Linked DNA regions of Homo sapiens. The protein of the gene in region 2 purifies or fractionates together with the protein of the main gene of each other region. This does not show direct contact. Each region holds a gene or a part of one and is shown on either strand. Other genes may lie near its edges. The genes, in order: DNAJC13, MUSK and RBSN.

Evidence for each region.
Region 1: the proteins of MUSK (region 2) and DNAJC13 purify together in Homo sapiens (affinity purification with mass spectrometry; 2 studies listed by BioGRID and IntAct, with this or other methods). This does not show direct contact.
Region 3: the proteins of MUSK (region 2) and RBSN purify together in Homo sapiens (affinity purification with mass spectrometry; 2 studies listed by BioGRID and IntAct, with this or other methods). This does not show direct contact.

The regions. Positions count from the first base shown.
Region 1 is NC_000003.12:132,497,451-132,504,562, forward strand, and holds part of DNAJC13 (dnaJ homolog subfamily C member 13), read left to right. Parts: intron 1-1,675; coding exon 1,676-1,860; intron 1,861-2,283; coding exon 2,284-2,358; intron 2,359-3,343; coding exon 3,344-3,463; intron 3,464-4,838; coding exon 4,839-5,018; intron 5,019-5,763; coding exon 5,764-5,931; intron 5,932-7,112.
Region 2 is NC_000009.12:110,664,293-110,671,811, forward strand, and holds the start of MUSK (muscle, skeletal receptor tyrosine-protein kinase isoform 1 precursor), read left to right. Parts: upstream 1-4,498; 5' UTR 4,499-4,612; coding exon 4,613-4,691; intron 4,692-7,519.
Region 3 is NC_000003.12:15,082,132-15,089,243, forward strand, and holds part of RBSN (rabenosyn-5), read right to left. Parts: intron 3,831-7,112; coding exon 3,730-3,830; intron 2,915-3,729; coding exon 2,869-2,914; intron 2,766-2,868; coding exon 2,604-2,765; intron 478-2,603; coding exon 236-477; intron 1-235. UniProt on the Homo sapiens protein: Rab4/Rab5 effector protein acting in early endocytic membrane fusion and membrane trafficking of recycling endosomes. Required for endosome fusion either homotypically or with clathrin coated vesicles.

The DNA.
Region 1 (7,112 bases), on a different chromosome or scaffold from region 2:
AGCATGGAGAGTGTTGGGTAACTAAAGACAAGAGATGGTGTTGCAGTTTAAGTATTGGAGGGGACAACCTGAGGATCTAGCAGTTGGATTATTAAAGAGAGCAGTGATTAGTTGATTTACTTTTACATGAGTTTAACAGAATACGTTTATAATACATTTTAGATATATGGCTTTTACTAATCAGAATGAGTTTGGAAACCTTTTTCAAAACCCTTGGTTGTCTTTTAATGCTGATAACTAAATTATTAGCCACAAGATACAGTTATGGCCCATCCTGGTTTCTCTGTTATCAAGGTCATCTTTAACTTTTCCCAAGAGGGGTTTATACCCAAGAAGCTCTGAGGTGGAGGTCCTGATCTGACAGGACTTAGTTATTCACTGTTCTTTCTTATTACGTATGTGTCACTTTTTTTTTTTTTAAAGGAAAATTAGGACCTGTTCCAGGGGGCCTTTTTTTTAAAAGCCAGTTTAGAAATGAGTTTTAAGGCAGATTATTGGTCAGCCTCAAAAGTCAAAAAGATTTATGCTGATTTCAATTGGAATTATAGAGATACTTTTAAAGTCACAGCCAATTAATTTGCATCTCTTTGCCTAATAGGTTAGATTGAAAAAAGAAGATGGAAAGAACAGAGTAATTAGGCATGTAGGTTTACTAGCTTTCACTTTTAAATTTGGTTATTAAAACATGGAATTAACTAAATGTAGTTTAAAAGTTAACTTTCTGTTTTGTACTTCTAGTAAGAAATTGTATTATTTTCAAATTTAAGAAAATACTGGTAAAACTTTAAGATAACTGGTAAAATAGATACCAGTTATCTTTAAGATAACTGGTAAAATAGATACTGGTAAAATAGATAAACAAGGGCACTTGTTATCCAGAAAACTTAATATAAAATATTCAGTGTCATGTAAATGTCTTCTCAGTCTTTTTTCTTTATAAAGATGTGCATATAATTGATATTAATAGAATTTCTGGTGCATTTGCTGTACCTTGCGTTCTGTGATGAGGTGAAAAGTTACAAAGATCAGCATAGAAAGTAGGTATTCTGCAAAGGATCAAAACTATACACCAAGTGCAGTTAATTTACCAGAAAATGTTATTTTTCTAGTGGAAACATTTTAGAAAAATCAACCAAGTTTACTAGAAAGGAAGGATCCAAGGGATTTTATAGTAGGTTTAATTTCTTTTTTTATCAACTGGCATTAGGAGGCATTTAAGATGTTAAGATAAAATATTTTATCTTTTTTTTTACGTTTTATTTTATTTTATTTTTATTTTTTTTGAGACGGAGGCTTGCCCTGTCGCCCAGGCTGGAGTGCAGTGGTGCCATCTCCACTCACTGCAAGCTCCACCTCCCGGGTTCACACCTTTCTCCTGCCTCAGCCTCCCGAGTAGCTGGGACTACAGGTGCCTGCCACCACACCCGGCTAACTTTTTTGTGTTTTTAGTAGAGAAAGGGTTTCACTGTGTTAGCCAGGATGGTCTCAATCTCCTGACCTCGTGATCCACCCACCTTGGCCTCCCAAAGTGCTGGGATTACAGGCATGAGCCACCATGCCTGGCCCCATTTTTATTTTTTTAAGGCAACATATTCTTGAACATGGTATCAAAATTGAAACCACAACATAATCAATTTTGTTTTGTTTTTCTAACACTAACCATTGGTTATTTCAGATTTACAGCCTTATAAATATGCAGGATACCCCATGCTTATTCGGACTATAACAATGGAAACTTCAGATGACCTCCTTTTCTCAAAAGAATCACCATTGTTGCCTGCGGCTACAGAGCTAGCTTTCCATACTGTCAACTGTTCAGCCCTCAATGCTGAAGAGCTCAGAAGAGAGAATGGACTAGAGGTAATACGGAGTGACCTTTGTGCTTTTTAAGCCAGTTTACACACATTATATGACTCTTGGCAGTGAAGAATTCAGCAAGTACAAATGCAGATTCTTTAATTTATTTCAGCAGATAACACAATATTTTCCATATTCTTATACCAAATTAAAGGTAGAAATGGAGCTTTATTTCACAATGTGAGTTGGAAAGTATTGGGTTCAAAACCGATAATGGTAATATTGTTTACAAAGTAGCTTATTAGAAATGCTTAAAAGGAAACTTTTAGGAGTCCTTTGTTTACTATTTATTAACAAATGTTGATCAAACATTTATGTATCAAATATTTAACATTAAAGGGTTATTTATATTTTATTACTGCTAGAAAAGGCCTTTCAGACTTGAAGTCAAAATGGAGAGTTAATAGCTGACTTCTTCCTCTGCAGGTGTTACAAGAGGCATTTAGTCGCTGTGTGGCTGTCTTGACTCGTGCTAGTAAACCAAGTGACATGTCAGTACAGGTGAGGCTAAAACCTGTGGTTCCAAGAAAATTGCACTAGTTCAATGGTTCAGACTTTAACATATCTGAGAATCAACTGGAGGGCTCATTAAACTGTAGGTTGCTGAGCTCCACCCCACCCCAAGTTTCTGATTCAGTGAGTCTGGGGTGGTGGCCTGAGAGTATGTTTTTATAACAAGTTTCCAAGTGTCATTGATGCTGCTGGTCTGTGTATCACACTGTAAGAAACTGTACTAAAGCACTTGTGATCTGTTGGCTTACGTTTTCTTTCTTAGAGAATAGTTTATTGAACCCATATGTTTCCATTACCCAGCTTAATGCCATTCTTGTTTCACATATCTTCCATCCCTCACTCTCCTATCTCTAGTATTTTAATTGGCTTAACATTTAAGGTTGTAAGATAGGAAATTCATCAGGAGTTCATTAAGAGCTTTGTAGAGCGTGTCTTTCTATTTGACCTTTTGCTTATGCCAGCAAAATTCAGAATATAAAACGAGTACTGGCTGTTGAGTTCCATCCTCTATTTTGAAGTCCGTTGTGTAAACAGAATTGTGATATTCTGCTATGTTAATAAACTATACAAAATTACCTTAATCCAGAGGCCAGCAAACTTCTAAAATAAAGGTCCAGGGAGTAAATATATGAGTCTTTCAGGCTTCATACAGTCTCTGTTACATTTTCTTTTGTGACTTTTTTACAGCCCTTTAAAAATCTAAAAACCATTCTTAGCTCTTTGGCAGTACAAAGACCATGGTCAGTTTGGCCCATGGGTTGTAGTAGCTGTGGTTTGCCAACTACCCCAGCATTTATAGGAAATCTTAATGAGAAAGACTAGTGATCTAGTAAAGACATTCTGTTTAATTTTGGAACATTGTATATACCATTAAGCATTATTCACAAATTTCTGCTGGTTTGATTTCTATGTGTTAAATAAGGAATGCCTATGTGACTCTACTGGTTTTTTTGCTCTGTTGTGTTGTCTGCAGGTGTGTGGATACATAAGTAAATGCTACAGTGTGGCTGCTCAGTTTGAGGAATGCCGAGAGAAGATCACGGAAATGCCTAGCATCATCAAGGATCTCTGTCGGGTACTATATTTTGGCAAGGTAGGGTTAATCTTTAATGCTTTCTAGATACAGACAGCAAAGTGTCTTTTTGTCAACTAGCCAGTTCCTAATGTATAAGCACATTGTTTTCCCAAAGTTATTTGTAAGTAAAATTATTTGGATTTCTAAAAGCATTTTTCACAGAAGCCTTGCTGTAAATGGAGGCTTTGCTTCTAGGCTGGCCTACAAAGAAAAAGACTAAAGTGATACATCTAAAGGGAAGTGGGTTCCATCTGAACATTAGAATGAGTGGCAGGGAGAAAAGAGAAGCCTGTAATAAATAAGTCTTTTAAAAGCAAAAGGCCAGCCCGGTGTGGTGGCTCACGTCTGTAATCCTAGCACTTTGGCAAGCCGAGGTTGGCAGATCACTTGAGGTCAGGAGTTCAAGACCAGCCTGGCCAACACTGCAGAACCCTGTCTACAAAAAAATACAAAAATTAGCTGGGTATGATGGCATGCGCCTGTAATCCTAGGTATTCGGGAGGCTGAGTATTTGGCTGAAGAACAAGCAACTCCAGAAAATTCAACCATAAGGAAAAGTTTAGCTGGCATGCTGACACCCTATGTTTCTGTGGCTAGTGTGACTGAGATATATGCTTCAGAGGTAGCCTGTGCCACTACACTCCAGACTGGGCAAGAGAGTGAGACTCTGTCTCAAAAAAAAAAAAGAAAAAAAAACAGGGCCATGTAAAACCTGAAAACTAGAGAGTTCGGCACTGCTTGGTGGGAAAGGCTTTAGAGATCTGAGAACTTACTATTTCCTCCCAATCCAGACCTGCTGAGGAAGGTTGACTGTGGGTAGATGAGATAGATGACTGGGAGGGAGAGAGAAATGTCTTAAATAACTGGGCAGAGTGAGAATTGTCTTGAATAAAACAGGATCGAGATGCTGATCTAGTACTAAAGTATCAAGAAGTGAGGGAATTGATGAAAATATCTCCTCTACTATATCTACTTAATGTCCTTAGAAGTATTTGATTACAGAATAAAAAACTGACATAAATAAATCTTTTAACAACTGCACAAAATATGTCGTTACATTTAAGATCACTAGCGTGTAAGTTGCTATTGATGCCATGTCACTATTTTTAAAAATTAAAAATACAAGAAGTGAAACAGGAAACTATTCCCAAGTCTTCTGACATTAGCCTTAAAGGTAGTAATTCTGGTATCTCGTCATGAGGTCACTTTTAATTTTAGGCTTTAAAGGATGTAGGATTCAGATTTAAATTGGAATTGAAAATGTAAGAAGAGGTAAACATTTTACAAAATAACGTGGTTGGCTTGACATACATGCACAACCAGTTCCTCTTGGGAGCTTTTTTTTTTTTTTTTAACTCTGTAACAACTAATGCTCTCATTTTTATTCTCTCAGAGTATTCCCCGCGTAGCTGCTCTTGGGGTAGAATGTGTCAGTTCTTTTGCTGTGGATTTCTGGCTACAGACACACCTATTTCAGGCTGGAATTTTGTGGTATCTCCTTGGTTTTCTGTTTAATTATGACTACACACTAGAAGAGAGTGGCATTCAGAAAAGTGAAGAAACAAACCAGCAGGTAACTTTAACATTGCTTTAATATTGAATTTGAACCCAAACCTTAGGTTGGTGTTAAACTAATCCAAACCAAAGCTGCTATCCAGAGTCCCCAGAGATAAATTGTTTTTCAGGAAAATTAGGTTTTTTGCTTTTTAAACCTAATCACTTACTTACAAAACTTTTAGTTGTAATTGCTTATGCTTAAAGGATTCCAGGCAAGGGAATTTGCAATAGCATATACTGGACATAATTTAATAATTTCTTAATTACTCAGAGTCAACTTTATGATGGCAAAATTATGGTTGTGTAACACAGGACAATATAATGTTACCATCAGGCAGTTGAGGCTAGCTCCCCTAAACACTTGAGTACTTGTCTGATTTTTATAGATATTTTTCTGTCTCTTCTATGTGCTCTCATTTATTGCTCATATTGTAAATGTGTGCTTCTAGCAGGCAGGGCTGCCTACCTATCCCCTACTCCCCACATTACCACCAAATGTGCTTCTTCCAGTTGTCTGTGAGATATACTGCATTGGGTATAAGTTAGTACATAGATTCTCCTGGTCCTTCTTATAAATAAAAAACAAGCCCCAACACATAAACTTTCTGATGTTTACCTCAGTGGTAGGTACTCTTGTACCCTTTTGTTGGTTGACTTTTTACTCCTTAAATATGTTCCATATAGTGTGATTCTGTAAAATTATAGTATTACCTATGTAAGATAACAGATCTACTTTAACAACTTAATTTTTTTTATAACAGGAGGTAGCAAACAGCCTTGCCAAACTGAGTGTCCATGCTCTGAGTCGCCTTGGAGGGTATTTGGCTGAAGAACAAGCAACTCCAGAAAATCCAACCATAAGGAAAAGCTTAGCTGGCATGCTGACACCCTATGTTGCTAGAAAACTTGCTGTGGCTAGTGTGACTGAGGTATGTGCTTCACAGGTAGCCTGGGTTTTAATCAATAGTGCAAGATCCTTTAAGCAGTAAAGTAGTACAATAATATTGATCTAGGGAACCTAAAAATTAAGAACGTTCACATGTTTGTTCTCTCAAGCAAGAAATTCACTTTATAATGGATTGATGCTAATGATGTCAGTTCTACAAGTCCAGTTTTTGCAAGGGCAAATTAACTTTGTTTCTCAGCTGTGGAGCCTATCATAATTCTTACCAACCTTGAGTCACAAAGGGACAGGACGAGAGAGTGAAGTTGGAATGGTGTTTCACAATGGCAGACTACTGGGAGACAGGAGACCCAGAGTCTATTTCAAGCTATTTATTGTAAGCCATAGCTTATTCAGACACAGGGTTAAAATCCTGAAAGTAAATACATACATGCACATATACATGTATATGTATCTATGTACATACATAGATGCATTACAAAAATCAGTATGACATGATAGATCTCCCAACCTCTTTAACTTCTTTTGCAAGGATTATTGAGAAATAATCTGAGAATGTAGCACTAAAGAATTTGATAAACTATAGAAATCAGTTAAACAGGTTACTATTATCCTTTAATTATAAAAAAAAAAAGAGTACTAAAAGACATTAAAATAAATGAAGACACTAGATCCTATTTTTGGTATAACAAAATAAATGGATTGATAGATTTGTACCCATATGTTAACTGTAATTATTCCTGAATGGCATAATTATAGGCAGTTTTTCTTTTGTTTTCGCTAAGGATGAACTGTGACTTTTGTAAGTGAAAAAATCCTCAGGTTTCCAAAGTATTTTTACAACTTTTAAACAGGTTATTTGTTTTTAATCCAATGTGATTGAGTCCAATTTTCAGTGCTTGCCATGCTTTTCAGTTCCCATGTGTGAAAGGCAGGAGCTCTAGATGCTACTGGTTTTTTTTTTTTTTTTTAATTTTGTTTTTGTTTTTACTATTTTTCCTAAAACACTAGACGACCAGGGACCACTCCTGATGTTAGTTATTTTCCTGGACTTTTTGCTCACCAATGTGATACATTTTGCTGACTGAAAGCATTCTCTTCAGAAATGCCAACAAGTTTGGGATTAACCTTTATAGCCACCCCCACTAAAAATTTTTTATAGCATTTCAAAATTAAATGTTGGCATGAGCTCCAACTGGATTCAAT
Region 2 (7,519 bases):
TATTTTATAAACTTTTAAAATTTGTAATCTTTTTGACTCTTTTGTAATAATACTCTGTTTGAAACACAAATATATTGTACAGTTATACAAAAATAGTTTTTCTTCATATCCTTAAGCTCTTTTCTATCTTAAAATTTTATTTTTATTTTTTACTTTCTAAACTTTTTTTGTTAAACACTAAGACAAAAACACACAATAGCCTTGGCCTACACAGGGTCAGGATCAAAACATCACTGCCTTTCAACAGCTTGTCCTACTGGAAGGTCCTCAGGGGCAATAACACACATGGAGCTGCCATCTCCTATGGTAACAATGTATTCTTCTAGAATACCTGCCTGAGGCTGTTTTACAATCAATTTTTTATTTATTTTTATTTTTTATGTTTTTAAATAAGTACAGGGTATACACAGTAAAATAATAATAAAAATATAGTACATTAAAAAAACCAGCAACATGGTCATTTATTATCATTATCAACTATTATGTACTCTACATAATTGTATGTGCTTTTTTATTCAAAAAGAAAATCATTAAGAACACAGCAATATTAATATTTATTCTTTTTTTTAGAAGAACCTGATTTATTTATTTAATTTTTTTATTATACTTTAAGTTCTGGGATACATGTGCAAAACGTGTAGGTTTGTTACACAGGTATACATGTGCCATGGTGGTTTGCTGTATCCATCAACCCATCATCTACATTAGGCATTTCTCCTAATGCTATCCCTCCCCTAGCCCCCCACCCCTTGACAGGCCCCAGTATGTGATTCTCCCCTCCCTGTGTCCATGTGTTCTCATTGTTAGCTCCCACTTATGAGTGAGAACATGTGGTGTTTGGTTTTCTGTTCCTGTATTAGTTTGCTGAGAATGATGGTTTCCAGCTTCATCCATGTCCCTGCAAAGGATATAAACTCATTGTTTTTTATGGCTGCATAGTATTCCGTAGTGTATATGTGCCACATTTTCTTTATCTAGTCTATCATTGATTGGCATTTGGGTTGGTTCCAAGTCTTTGCCATTGTGAATAGTGCTGAAATAAACATATATGTGCATGTGTCTTTATAGTAGAATGATTTATAGTCCTTTGGGTATATACCCAGTAATGAGATTGCTGGGTCAAATGGTATTTCTGGTTCTAATCCTTGAAGAATTGCCACACTGTCTCCCACAATGGTTGAACTAATTTACACTCCCACAAACAGTGTAAAAGCATTCCTATTTTTCCACATTCTCTCCAGCATCGGTTGCTTCCTGACTTTTTAATGATTGCCACTCTAACAGGCATGAGATGGTATCTCATTGTGGTTTTGATTTGCATTTCTCTAATGACCAATAATGATGAGCTTTATTTCATATGTTTGTTGGCTGCATAAATGTCTTATTTTGAGAAGTGTCTGTTCATATCCTTCGCCCACTTTTTGATGGGGTTGTTTGTTTTTTTCTTGTAAATTTGTTTAAGTTCTTTGTAGATTCTGGATATTAGCCCTTTGTCAGATGGATAGATTGCAAAAATTTTCTCCCACTCTGTAGGTTGCCTGCTCACTCTAATGATAGTTCCTTTTGCTGAGCAGATGGTCTTTAGTTTAATTAGGTCCCATTTGTCAATTTTGACTTTTGTTGCCATTGCTTTTGGGGTTTTAGTCATGAAGTCTTTGCCCATGCCTATGTCCTGAATGGTATTGCCTAGGTTTTCTTCTAGGGTTTTTATGGTTTTAGGTTTTACATTTAAGTATTTAATCCATCTTGAGTTAATTTTTGTATGAGATATAAGGAAGGGGTCCAGTTCCAGTTTTCCGCATATGGCTAGCCAGTTTTCCCAACACCATTTATTAAATAGGGAATCCTTTCCCTACTGCTTGTTTTTGTCAGGTTTGTCAAAGATCAGATGGTTGTAGATGTGTGGCATTATTTCTTAGGCCTCTGTTCTGTTCCATTGGTCTATATATCTGTTTTGGTACCAGTACCATGCTGTTTTGGCAAACCAGGAAGAAGCTGAATCCCTGAATATACCAATAAGAAGTTCTGAAATTGAGGCAGTAATTAATAGCCTACCGAGCAAAAAAAAAAAAAAAAAAAAAAAAATCCAGGACCAGACGGATTCACAGCCGAATTCTACCAGAGGTACAAAGAGGAGCTGGTACCATTCCTTCTGAAACTATTCCAATCAATAGAAAAAGAGGGAATCCTCTCTAACTAATTTTATGAGTCCAGCATCATCCTGATACCAAAACCTGGCAGAGGCACAACCAAAAACAGAAAATTTCAGGCCAATATCCCTGATGAATATTGATGTGAAAATTCTCAATAAAATACTGGCAAACTGAATCCAACAGCACATCAAAAAGCTTACCCACCACGATCAAGTTGGCTTCATCCCTGGGATGCAAGGCTGGTTAAACATATGCAAATCAATAAATGTAATCCATCACATAAACAGAACCAGTGACAAAAACCACATGATTATCTCAATAGATGCAGAAAAGGCTTTCAATAAAATTTAACACCCCTTTATGCTAAAAACTCTCAATAAACTAGGTATTGATGGAACCCATCGAAAAAAAATGAGCTATTTATGACAAACCCACAGCCAATGTCACACTGAATGAGAAAAAGCTGGAAGTATTCCCTTTGAAAACTGGCACGAGACAAGGATGCCCTCTCTCACCACTCGTATTCAACCTACTATTGGAAGTTCTGGCCAGGGCAATCAGGCAAGAGAAAGAAATAAAGCGTATTCAAATAGGAAGAGAGAAAGTCAAATTGTCTCTGTTTGCAGATGACATGATTGTATATTTAGAAAACCCCATCATCTCAGCCCCAAATCTCCTTAAGCTGATAAGCAACTTCAGCAAAGTCCCAGGATACAAAATCAATGTGCAAAGATCACAAGATTCCTATATACCAATAACAGACAAACAGAGAGCCAAATCATGAGTGAACTCCCATTCACAATTGCTACAAAGAGAATAAAATACCTAGGAATCCAACTTACAAGGGATATGAAGGACCTCTTCAAGGAGAACTACAAACCACTGCTCAAGGGAATAAAAGAGGACACAAATAAATGGAAAAACATTCCATGCTCATGATAGGAAGAATCAATATTGTGAAAATGGCTGTACTGCCCAAGGTAATTTATAGATTCAATGCTATCCCCATCAAGCTACCATTGACTTTCTTCACAGAATTAGAAAAAACTACTTTAAATTTCATATGGAACCAAAAAAGAGCCCATATAGCCAAGGCAATCCTAAGCAAAAAGAACAAAGCTGGCGGCATCACACTACCTGACTCTAAAGTTCTATAAATGAACTCACGAGGCCAAAGAATGAAGAAGACACCAACACAAAGGGGAAAAAATCAAAACAATATGGTCATTGCAATGGTAGAGATATGCACAGTATATTATGGAAACCCAGAGAAGACAAACGTAACACAGCTTTGGGAAGATATGGAATTTTTCTCCCAGGAGGAGAGGATGATCAAGCTGAGAGATGTGTGAACTGAGTGGAAAGGAGGGGAGTAGTATTCCAAGAGAAGCAAACAGTATGAGCAATTCATGGAGGTAGGAAAGCTGTATACAGGGAACCATCAGCAGGTTGTTGAATAAAGGAAGCTGAATGAGGCTGGGCACAGTAGCTCACGCCTGCATTCCCAGCACTTTGAGAGGCCGAGGTGGAATCATCATTTGAGGCCAGCAGTTTGAGACCAGCCTGGGTAACATAGCCTGACCACATCTCTCCAAAAAATAAAAATAAATTAGCCTGCTGTAGTGGCAGTGCCTGTAGTCCTAGCTACTCTGAAAGGATCACTTGAGTCCAGGAGGCTGAGGTTGCAGTGAGCTATGATTACCCCATTGCACTCCAGCCTGGGCAACAGAGCAAGACCCTGACTCTGAAAAAAAAAAAAAACAAAAAACAAAAACAGGATCGTAAAAGACAATACTAACATACAACAAAGCATGCAGATTCCAGTAAAGCCTGTCATATTAGGCAGATTAGGCAGGTTTAAATATATTTTTATGTGATGATGAGCCCCTAAAGGCTTTTGAGCAGGAGGGACTATCTGAAAAAAGATATAGAATGGTTAAGACCCAAGACAGAGAGAAGGTACAAGGACTATTTGGTTGATAAAATCTGTAGGAATTGGAATGGGCTGAATGTGGGAGTGGGGGTGGGGTGAGAGATGGGGAGGACTGAAGACTGAATAGACCCAGATTTCTGGTTTGAGTCCGGGAGAGGTGGGGTGCTGAATTCGAAGGTCAGGACACCTATACCTCTGGGAATACAGCGATGGTTGCAAAAGGCATCTGGTATTGTCCTTCTGCCACTGTCTTAAAAGGGATTCTAAAGGGATTTTCTTGCCCTTGTTCCTCCAGCCCTACACTTGCATTACTGGCCTACGTGGATGCTCACCAGCTGGCTGTGTCCATCATTGCAGCCAAGTCTGAGAATTCCTGATTATACTTAGAGCCTGTGGAGCTGCTGACACAAACAGTCATTAGCAGACAACCCTTTTGCAACAAAGTATGCTTTAAAATGTAAACTGTGGAGCCATTTTCCTTGCGTTGTCCAGAAGGAACTTCGTCCTGCGTGAGCCTGGATTAATCATGAGAGAGCTCGTCAACATTCCACTGGTACATATTCTTACTCTGGTTGCCTTCAGCGGAACTGAGAAACTTCCAAAAGGTTGGTTTGAGCAATCGTGTCTTCTTGTTGTCTTGTCATGGTTGTAAAGTGTGTGTATATGAGATATGACCAAGACTGATTTATAGTATGGTGGGCTTGGGTTTTACTTGAAGAAGTAAGGGTGAAATGTATGATGAGGGAGGAAATTATATACATAAGCAATTGGTTGATGGTCTCTCTACCAATATTTTACTCCGAAGTTCTGCAATAAAAGGCTTAGCCACATAGTGCATGCAGAGCTCTGACTTCTAGGGCAAAACATAAGCATGTACACTGCAAGTTATCAAGGTCTATTTTGTTTATGCGAATGTCAAATTTCAGGGTGGTCTAAGTGGATGATGACAACCTTTTCGCATCAGGTTTGCCAGGAATAGAATCAACCCCATTCTCAGACATCCAGAGCATTTGCTTCTGAATAAAAATCACTTTTATTTTCAGTTTTAGCTTTGCCAAACTCTTAATAAATATTTTAGTTGCTAAAAATTGGAAATACAGAAAGACGTACACAATTTGCCTGTGTAACAAACCCGGAAGACAATGGATTTTAAATAACTTTGAGGCTGGAGTCATGATTTGGCTTGGCAAGAGACTGCAAAAGTTTTTTTCAGAGCCTTTGGAATGTACCGGAAATAACACCACCTCAGGGGAAAGGAAAGCAACTTAAGAAACTGACAAACACCTGTTGCAGTAGCAAGAATGTCCAGTGATATAGTTTCTGGCCAGTGTATTATGAAACTGGGACTAGCGTATTTGAAATCAGAAAGACTGGAAAGTCTGTGATTTGCAAAGTGACTAAGGGTATCACTGAAATCTTTTTTTAAAAAGACATGAGAAAGCAGATCGAGTGGTATCAATACAAGAGTTTTCAAATTTAATGTTATACCATAGAGTAAAAAGAGATTTTTGCTTCAGGACATGTTCAAATTAATCATTTTCCCTTTATATTAATCAAAGCACTGAAACAGTTTGTATTGTGTAGATAAATGAAGGTGGTATCTGTATATAGATGCAAAATGTATCTTTAGATTTTCTGGTTCACTAAAAATTCTGGAGCCATAAGGTCAAAGTTCACATGCAAATAAGATGCGGGTTTCTTCACAAACAATCTGATTTCACAGATTTTTTTGTTTCATTTTGTTGCTTCTCTTTTTCCATTTTACTTGAGTATAATGGTATCTTCAAATGTATTTAAACATTTAATTTCTAATGAATACTTTAAGGCATCTACAGATAAAAGAGACTCTAGATCTTTTCAAACAGCTAATAATAGTCAGAAAGACTTAACATTGGCTTCAGATTATTTTAATACTTCCTGATCAAACAACGGATGTCCGGTAAGGCCCCACCTGGATGTTTGAACGTATGGGTTGTCTTAAGTATTATTTGTATATTTCTAAACCACGCAGTTACATAAAAATGATAGGGTTAAATACTAAAATACAGTCTTATAAAGAGCAGGACAATTGATTTTGATGATTCAAATAAGGATTTGTTGTACACACACACAAAACCCCCAAAATCTCTCTATCTGAATAAGTCTTAATTTATATTCTAGAAAGAATTGATTTTCATTTCCAAACTTTACAAATAAAGCCCTTAATTCAAATGCACACTATCTCTATTTTGAAAATATTGAAATATAGTGGCATAGAGATAACAAAGCCAAACACCCTGACTTTTAAATAAACTAACCAGATCATTCACCCAATTTCATTTCTTATAATTTATTTACTACTAGAATTAGGTTTTAAAATCAAAAAATTTAAGCAATTTTTTCTCAGTCTATTGTACTGTAAAATCTAAATTAGTATGAGTTTAACATCACTCTTAGCCAAAATACCATGTCTAGGAGAACAAACATTTATTTACTACATACAGCAGTTCTGAGAATAACTAATATCATGAAAGCATAATCCTTAAAATTTTAAATGTTGAAGGGTGAGGAATACATTGGTAGAAAAGAACCACAATAAAATTTTATTATTTTCATTATTATTATTATTATTTGAGACAGAGTCTCGTTCTGTTGCCAGGCTGCAGTGCAGTGGTGTGATCTCAGCTCACTGCAACCTCCTCCTCCCAGGTTCAAGCTATACTCCTGCCTCAGACTCGCAAATACCTGGGACTACAGGTGCAAGCCACCACACTCGGCTAATTTTTATATTTTTAGTAGAGACAGGGTTTCACCATGTTGGCCAAGATGGTCTCCATCTCTTGACCTCGTGATCTGCCTGCCTCGGCCTCCCAAAGTGCTGGGATTACAGGCATGAGCCACTGCGCCAGCCATTATACTACTGAAACTAATAAAAATGGCCCACCCAAACTATTTCTACTATTTCTAGAAAACTACTGTTTTCCCTATTCTTGGCAGACGGTAATAACAAAAAGAGTTTTTTAGATAATATACTTCTTCCTAAGTCCTTTATCATGAATGCATAAAGGAAATTGTACAATATGTATTAGCTAATAAATTGACATATTTAAAATAACACAAAAGTATTCAGTGGATTATTTTCTGACTTTCTGCACATCATTTTTTGATAAAAATTAATATCCAACTTTGTAGAATTAATTGTTCATAGTTTTCATTTTAGTTTAATTAAGGCTACTAATGCCCAATGATAAGGGGAAGAATCATTGTCTTTCTGAATCATTTCAACTAGTGATATTTTCAATGATGAATTCAGTGCCATAACCCAAGTAGTAGAATTTCACAAACTGTCATTTATGAAAGTAGCCAATGTTCCACTGGATAATTGGCTTAACTACATACATCAATAACATTTAATGCTTTATTAGGGAGTATTAAATGTATGGTGCAATGTTAG
Region 3 (7,112 bases), on a different chromosome or scaffold from region 2:
GCTTTCAAGTGGCCAAGGAAGGCCACTTGAAACGAGTTTGTTGCAACACACCCAGGATGACTCTGACTCACACAGGGCCCTAGCTGGGAAATCATAACATGGGCCTTTAACAGGAACTACAAATAATTCAAACGAACAACTTCCCAAAGCATTCTCCAGAATCTGCAGGAGTGTACATAACAAACAGCCAAATCTGCCTAAGAAATTAGACCCAAGACCAGACAGCGCGAATCACCTCGTAGAGCTTCACGATGTCAGGTGTGTGCTCCTTCTCATCAATCTGCTGCTCTCTCTTGAGCAGCGTGTCCTTGCAGTGTGTACAGCAGCGGATCCGGTCATCGTCCTTCTCATCCAGGACCGAGCTGACACTGCTCATGCTGCTGATGCTGCCTCGGCGGGAGCCATGGACACTGTTGGGTGACTGGCTGGGGCTGGTGTGGGTGCTCAGGGACTCCTTGCTGGCACTGGTGAGCTTGTCTGTAACCACAACACCAACAGGCAGCAATGACCCCCACAGCATCCAATTACCATACCCACGACCTCAAGGTGTCAGTCCACAGGTGTTTGATTTGGAGAGTAATAAGATCAGGCTCCAGCTGTGGGCACGTACTGCCCCTCTGCCTTCCTGGTGTCAGACTCTGGTGAGAAAGGACTCCACTGCTGCCCCTCCAAATCCAAACAGCCTTCCCTTTCCACCTGCCACTCTCCTGCATTTGCCCTGTGCCTCCAACACAACAAACATTCTCCCAGGAGACTTTCCTCCACAGCCTTCTCCCTATTCCCAAACATCTGGCTCCTACCCTCTCTGAATGGCAGGTCCTCCAGGAAAGCCTTTTCCAATTCCCTGAGGCAAAAACTATCCATCCTTCCCATCAGTTCCCACCACATTGCCCATTTTGGAGCACTTTCCACTCTTCTCCCTGTGTACAGTTGCATGTACACCCCAGAGCTGCCCTAGGAACCTATGACTCTTTGTGGGTACGAACTGTGTCTTACTCACACTTGTACACTTAACATATCCAGCAGGGCCACCCCACAGCAGCTGCCCAGTAAATGCTGGCTAAAGAGCTCAAGAGAAGAAGGGTGAATAGTGTCCCAAAAAGGCAGCTTATAAAATCTCATGTGAGACAGGGAGTTGGTCTCAGGGAGAAAGTATCAAGGTACAGTGACCTGGTATATGTGAGAGTTGGAAAGAAGAAGCATCTGTTTTTGTCCCCACATTATCCAGACACCCCATGGCCAACAGTGTGCACAGTCAGCAGAACTCTCTAGTGTTGCAAATTTACCCCAAACTTCCCAGAAGCCAATGAGATCATCTTCAGCAACTTCTACTCAGCTTGGTTGCAAAGTCCTGGAGGATCGGGTTCCACCTAAACTTTGTCCTCCACACACCCCCAACTATTCTATTTGCTCATCTATTAACCTACCCTGGGCTTTCCAGAATTCCATGCCTTTGCTCCTACTCTTCACTCTACCTAAAATGTCCTCTTTCTCCATCTCTTTTGCAATCCTACTCATCTTTTAAGGCTCTTCTTGAACATCACCTCCCAGCCCTAAGCATGCATGCTCTCACTGTCCCTGAGCCCACAGCACTCAGCATCTCTCATATTATGATATTAGTCTTTTCTATATGGCAGTGAGTTGTCTGTGACTTATCCCACAGGAAGGGACTAGCCCACTGCTTATATTCAAGACCCTCTTCTCAAAGTCACACTTGCCACTTCCAAGCAGAGCAGACAAAGAGTTGGTCAGCCTCTCCTGAGTTCCTGACAGTCTCTTTCATTGTACATCTCTCTTTAGAAAGCAATTATTTATTTGTGAGTTTATATCCCCTGATAGATGCTAGACTCCTTGGAAGAATGGACAATGCCTTATAGGCTTATAGGCCAGAAATGGGCAAAAAATGACCTGTGAGCCAAGTCCAGCCTCCAGGCTGTTTCTATATGGCTCTCAAACTAAGTATAATTTTCACATTGCTATTTTATTTTATTTATTTATTTTTTTGAGATGGGAGTCTCGCTCGGTCACCCAGGCTGAAGTGCAGTGGCTCAATCTCAGCTCACTGCAGCCTTCACCTCCCAGGTTCAAGCAATTCTCCTGCCTCAGCCTCCTGAGTAGCTAGGACTACAGGCACATGCCACCACGCCAGGCTAATTTTTGTATTTTTATAGAGACAGGGTTTCAACATGTTGGCCACGCTGGTCTCAAACTCCTGACCTCAAGTGATCCGCCTGCCTTGGCCTCTCAAAGTGCTGTGATTACAGGCATGAGCCACTGTGCCCAGTCTAGTGTTCACATTTTTAAAAGGTTGTTTAAAGAAAGAAGAAATGTCACAGCAACCATATGTGGCCCACAAAGCCTAAATGTATTTACTATCTGATCCTTTACAAAGTTTGCCAATCCCTGTTATAGACCACTGTATCCCTGGCCCCTAGCATAGTACCTAGTCTGTAGTGGGTTTCACAGAAACAGCAACTCAATGAATGAAGATTCCCATGAGCCATTAATTTAACAAAAAGGTTCCACGATCCCAGTGGTAATTAGCAAATAAGCTAGGCCCAAAAGAAGATGAGGGTCCAGGGCCCCACCTCCAAGTCACCTACTTGCCAAGGGAAGGCTGATGAGCTCCATACACTTCTTGCACATAATAGACCCGCAGAGGCGGCAGTGGTGGCGGCGGTTCCGGATGCTGAACTTATTCCCACAGTCTGGACAGAAAGGGACATCCTGGTCGTTGACCCAAGGCACCACAGACTTTTCTATTGCTTTGGGAAGAGCAAACCAACAAGAAAGCAGGCCATTTTAAAGAGAGCTTTGGTCAGGGAAAAAAAGATAATAAGATGAATGTGAGCAAAGTTTTAAAGTTACCTCGAATCTTTGCAGACTCAGTATTTGTTCTGTCAAATGCAGTGAGCTGACCGGAAGAAAATAGTGCCAAATGAAATTAACCAGGTGATGTATACATGCTCCACACTTTCCAATACATCAAGTGGGAAATTAGCACATTTGCATTCCTCAAGTCTCATCTGTCATCCCCAACGCCACAAAATCACAAAAACAATTTCACATGGGACAGGGTATTAGTTTTGCATCTAGAACCCACCTCGCTTCCTATAACCCACTTCTAATCTCTTTATTGTCAGTTACCCATTTTAGCAATAACCAGGGGTAGGCAAGGATGGGTAAGGGCAACGACTGAAAGCAACAGAAAACTCTCCATTCTCCACGGTGCTCCTGGACCCTAAAACTGGCCACATATTTCTGCCTTACAAAGTACACATAAAGAACTGTACTTGTGCTTGCTACTATGCCCAGCACACAATCCAGGTTACACACAACAAGCACAACTAGGATGAAAATACACCCGTGAGACCTGGTGACCACTTCTTTGTTTGCCATCACACACTACACCTCACTGGATGATTGTGCCTGGGACACCCAAAAGAAGAATCTGAAGGAAGAAAGGTTTTCCAGCACCTGAGTGGGATTCATAGGTGGGAAAAGGGAAGCTAAGCATGTGGCAAGTTTGTCAACCTGGGCCATTCTCTTAAGGAATGCTGGCCCAGGCTAGAACTGTCCACCATGTCCTTTGCACCTCTCTAGAGAAGGTGTTTCTCTGCCACCATCAGATGTATATGATATATACAACACAGGCTATAGAAATGTGATTATTTTTCCCCAGAAAATGTGTATTTGTAGAAAAAAATGTTTTAAGACAACAAAATTTACCTTCTCTAACCTGATTATTAGTTTATTGACTTCCACAACATAGTGGTCAATTCTAGCAGCTCGGTGTTTTTTGAAGTCGGAAAGATGGCTTCTCACAGCACCTAGAGGGAAGGAAGGTAGGGAGACAAATGACTTATAGTTTCTCTGAGGGAGCCTAGTCTCTACCTTGCCTCTTATCCCAGTGAATTTCAAAAGCAGGTTGGTCAACATAGCGAGACCCCGTCTCTCTCCAAAAAAAAAAAAAAAAAAAAAAATAGTCAGGCATGGGTATGTACGCCTATAATCCCAGCTCCTTGGGAGGCCAAGGCGGGAAGATGGCTTGAGCTCAGGAGCTGGAGGCTTCAGTGAGCTATGATCCCACCACTGTACTCCAGCCTGGGTGACAGAGTGAGACCAACTTCAGAAAGAAAAAAAAATATATTTCAAAAGCAAGTAAAAACTCTAGGATTTTAGAGCCTTACCAAAAATTCAAAAACCAGGAAAGCAAATGGAAGAAAATCTGCTAAATTGTTAACCGCCTTTGGAGGCCACCAAGTACCATATGAGAGACCTGAGAGTAGAGCAGATAAGAGCATGGACTCTGGAGTCAGCCTGTGCTCAAGTTTCAATTCTGCCACACACTGTGTAACCTTGGACACATTACTTAACATCTCTGTAACTCTAAGAGTACTCAACTATCAAATGGAATAATAATGGTATCTACTTCACAGAGTTGTTAACGATGATTAAATAAGTTAAAATTTGTAAAGTCTTAACTGACTCTCATGCCAATGTTAAATAAACAGGGTGGGAACATTATGGGTGATTTAAACATTTTTGAATTATCTTATTGTTTTATACTTTATAAATTTGATACAATATGGTTTTTCCTCAGGATAAGGACAATTCTCAAAATGGCCAAAAAAATGTAAATGCTGGTAGATTCCCTTGTGGGAGATAGTTAAGCTGATACCTTCCTCAGTCCAGCAGCCAAAACCCAGGACAAATGTCTGCAACACAAATAGCTTACTGTCTGAGTAACCTGAAATATCCCCTGCTCAGTCTCACCTGTTCCAGAAACATATTGTCCTCAACCCTCCCGGCACTCAGTGCATGTCCTCTTCCCAATGATCATCTATTCATTTATAGACTATAATGTAACAGAATTTGTCACATGCCATGCTTTTAAAAAATTTTTTAATTGCCAAATAAAAATTGCATATATTCACCGTGTACAACATGATGTTTTGAAATATTTATACACTGGGAAATGGCTAAACAAGCTAATTACCATATGCATTACTTCATATACTTACCACTTTTTGTGGTGACAATACAAAGTCTACTCTCACTGATTTTCAAGAATACGAGATATTTTTATTAACTATAATCAGGCCAGGTGCGGTGGCTCATGCCTGTAATCCCAGCACTTTGGGAGGCTGAGGAGCATGGATCACTTGAGGCCAGGAGTTCAAGACCAGTCTGACCAACATGGTGAAACCCTGTCTCTACTAAAAATACAAAAATTAGCTGGGCATGGTGGTGCACGCCTGTGGTCCCAGCTACTCAGGTGGCTGAGGCACAAGAATTGAACCCAGAGGCAAAGGTTGCAGTGAGCCAAGATCACAGCAGCACACTTGAGCCTGGGTGACAGAGGAAGGCTGTCTCAGAAAAACAAACAAACAAAAAACTATAAATCACCACCTTATACAACAGATCTCTTGACTTATTCCTCCCGGCTGAAATTTTGTATCCTTCGATCAGCATCTCCACATGCTATACTCTTTATTTATTTTTGAGACAGAGTCTCGCTCTGTCGCCCAGACTGGAATGCAGTGGCGAAATCTCCAGGCTCACTGCAATCTCCACCTCCCAGGTTCAAGCAATTCCCATGCCTCAGCCTCCCAAGTAACTTGGATTACACACATGTGCCACCATGCCAGGCTAATTTTTGTATTTTTAGTAGAGACAGGGTCTCACCACATTGGCCAAACTGGTCTCAAATTCCTGGCCTCATGTGATCTACCTGCCTTGGCCTCCCAAAGTGCTGGGTTTACAGGTGAGCCACCGCACCTGGCCACACATGCTATACTCTTAACCATCCACATGTCTTTTCTTCCCTAATCATACTCTAACATCTAATTAAACTTTAATTTAGAATTCTTAGGGGTGACCATAAATATTAACTGCTAAAATTTGCCATTCATTTGACCTACAATTTGTGATTTCAGTTACTGCAACTGGCAACTTAATCAGAAAATCACCCTAGTAATCTCACATTGGCAATCATGAAACAAGGTATCACAAACAAGCTATCATAAATAAATATTAACTTCTAAAATTTGCCATTCACTTGACCTTCTACAATTTGTGACTGTCTTCAGTTGCTGCAACTGGCAACTTAATCAGAAAATCACCCCAGTAATCTCACATGGGCAATCATGAAACAAAGCTAATAAGAATTCATGTGTCCAAAATTTCTCCTTCATGTTTTGGATTGGCTTTCATATGTATCTCATAATTACATATGTATAGTATTATTATTATTTTTTTTTTTTGAGACAGAGTCTCGCTCTGTCACCCAGGCTGGAGTGCAGTGGTGCAATCTCGGCTCACTGTAACCTCTGCCTCCTGGATTCAAGCAATTCTCCTGCCTCAGCCTCCCGAGTAGCTGGAATTACAGGCATGTGCCACCACACCTGGCTAATTTTTTTGTATTTTTAGTAGAGACGGGGTTTCACCATATTGGCCAGGGTGGTCTCAAACTCCTGACCTTGTGATTCAGCTGCCTCGACCTCCCAAAGTGCTGGGATTACAGGCGTGAGCCACTGCGCCCGGCTGTATAGTATTATTTTTAAAGCAATTTTCTCCTGCAATAACAAAAATGTTTCCATTCTCCAATACAGTAGCAAATAGCCACAAGTGGACACAGAACACTTAAAATGTGGTTAGTGTGTGCTACAGGAAGTGACTTTTAATTTTATTTCATTTAAATTTATTTAAACTTAAATAGCCCATGACTGGTGGCTACTGAATGGACAGCACAGTTGTAGGACTTTCCTTATTCAAAGAGACACCTTCTATAACAGCACTAAAAAGATACAGTAGATGAGCCTGGGTAAATTTCGCTTTCCTTCTTGGAGCTCCAGTTTCCTCATCCATAAATGGGAAAAAGGACCACTACTCCACAAGGCTTTTGTGAAAGGTGAACAAGATCATAAACATGAAAATTGAATAAATCACAAGGGAATGATAAATAAATAAAGGAATAATTACCCATTTCATGGACAGAAAATATTTTATTATATTAATGACTGTTATCATTAGACGGTTAAAGGATATGTAGGCAGGCGTAGTGGCTCACACCTGTAATCCTGGCACTCTGGGAGGCTGAGATGGGAGGA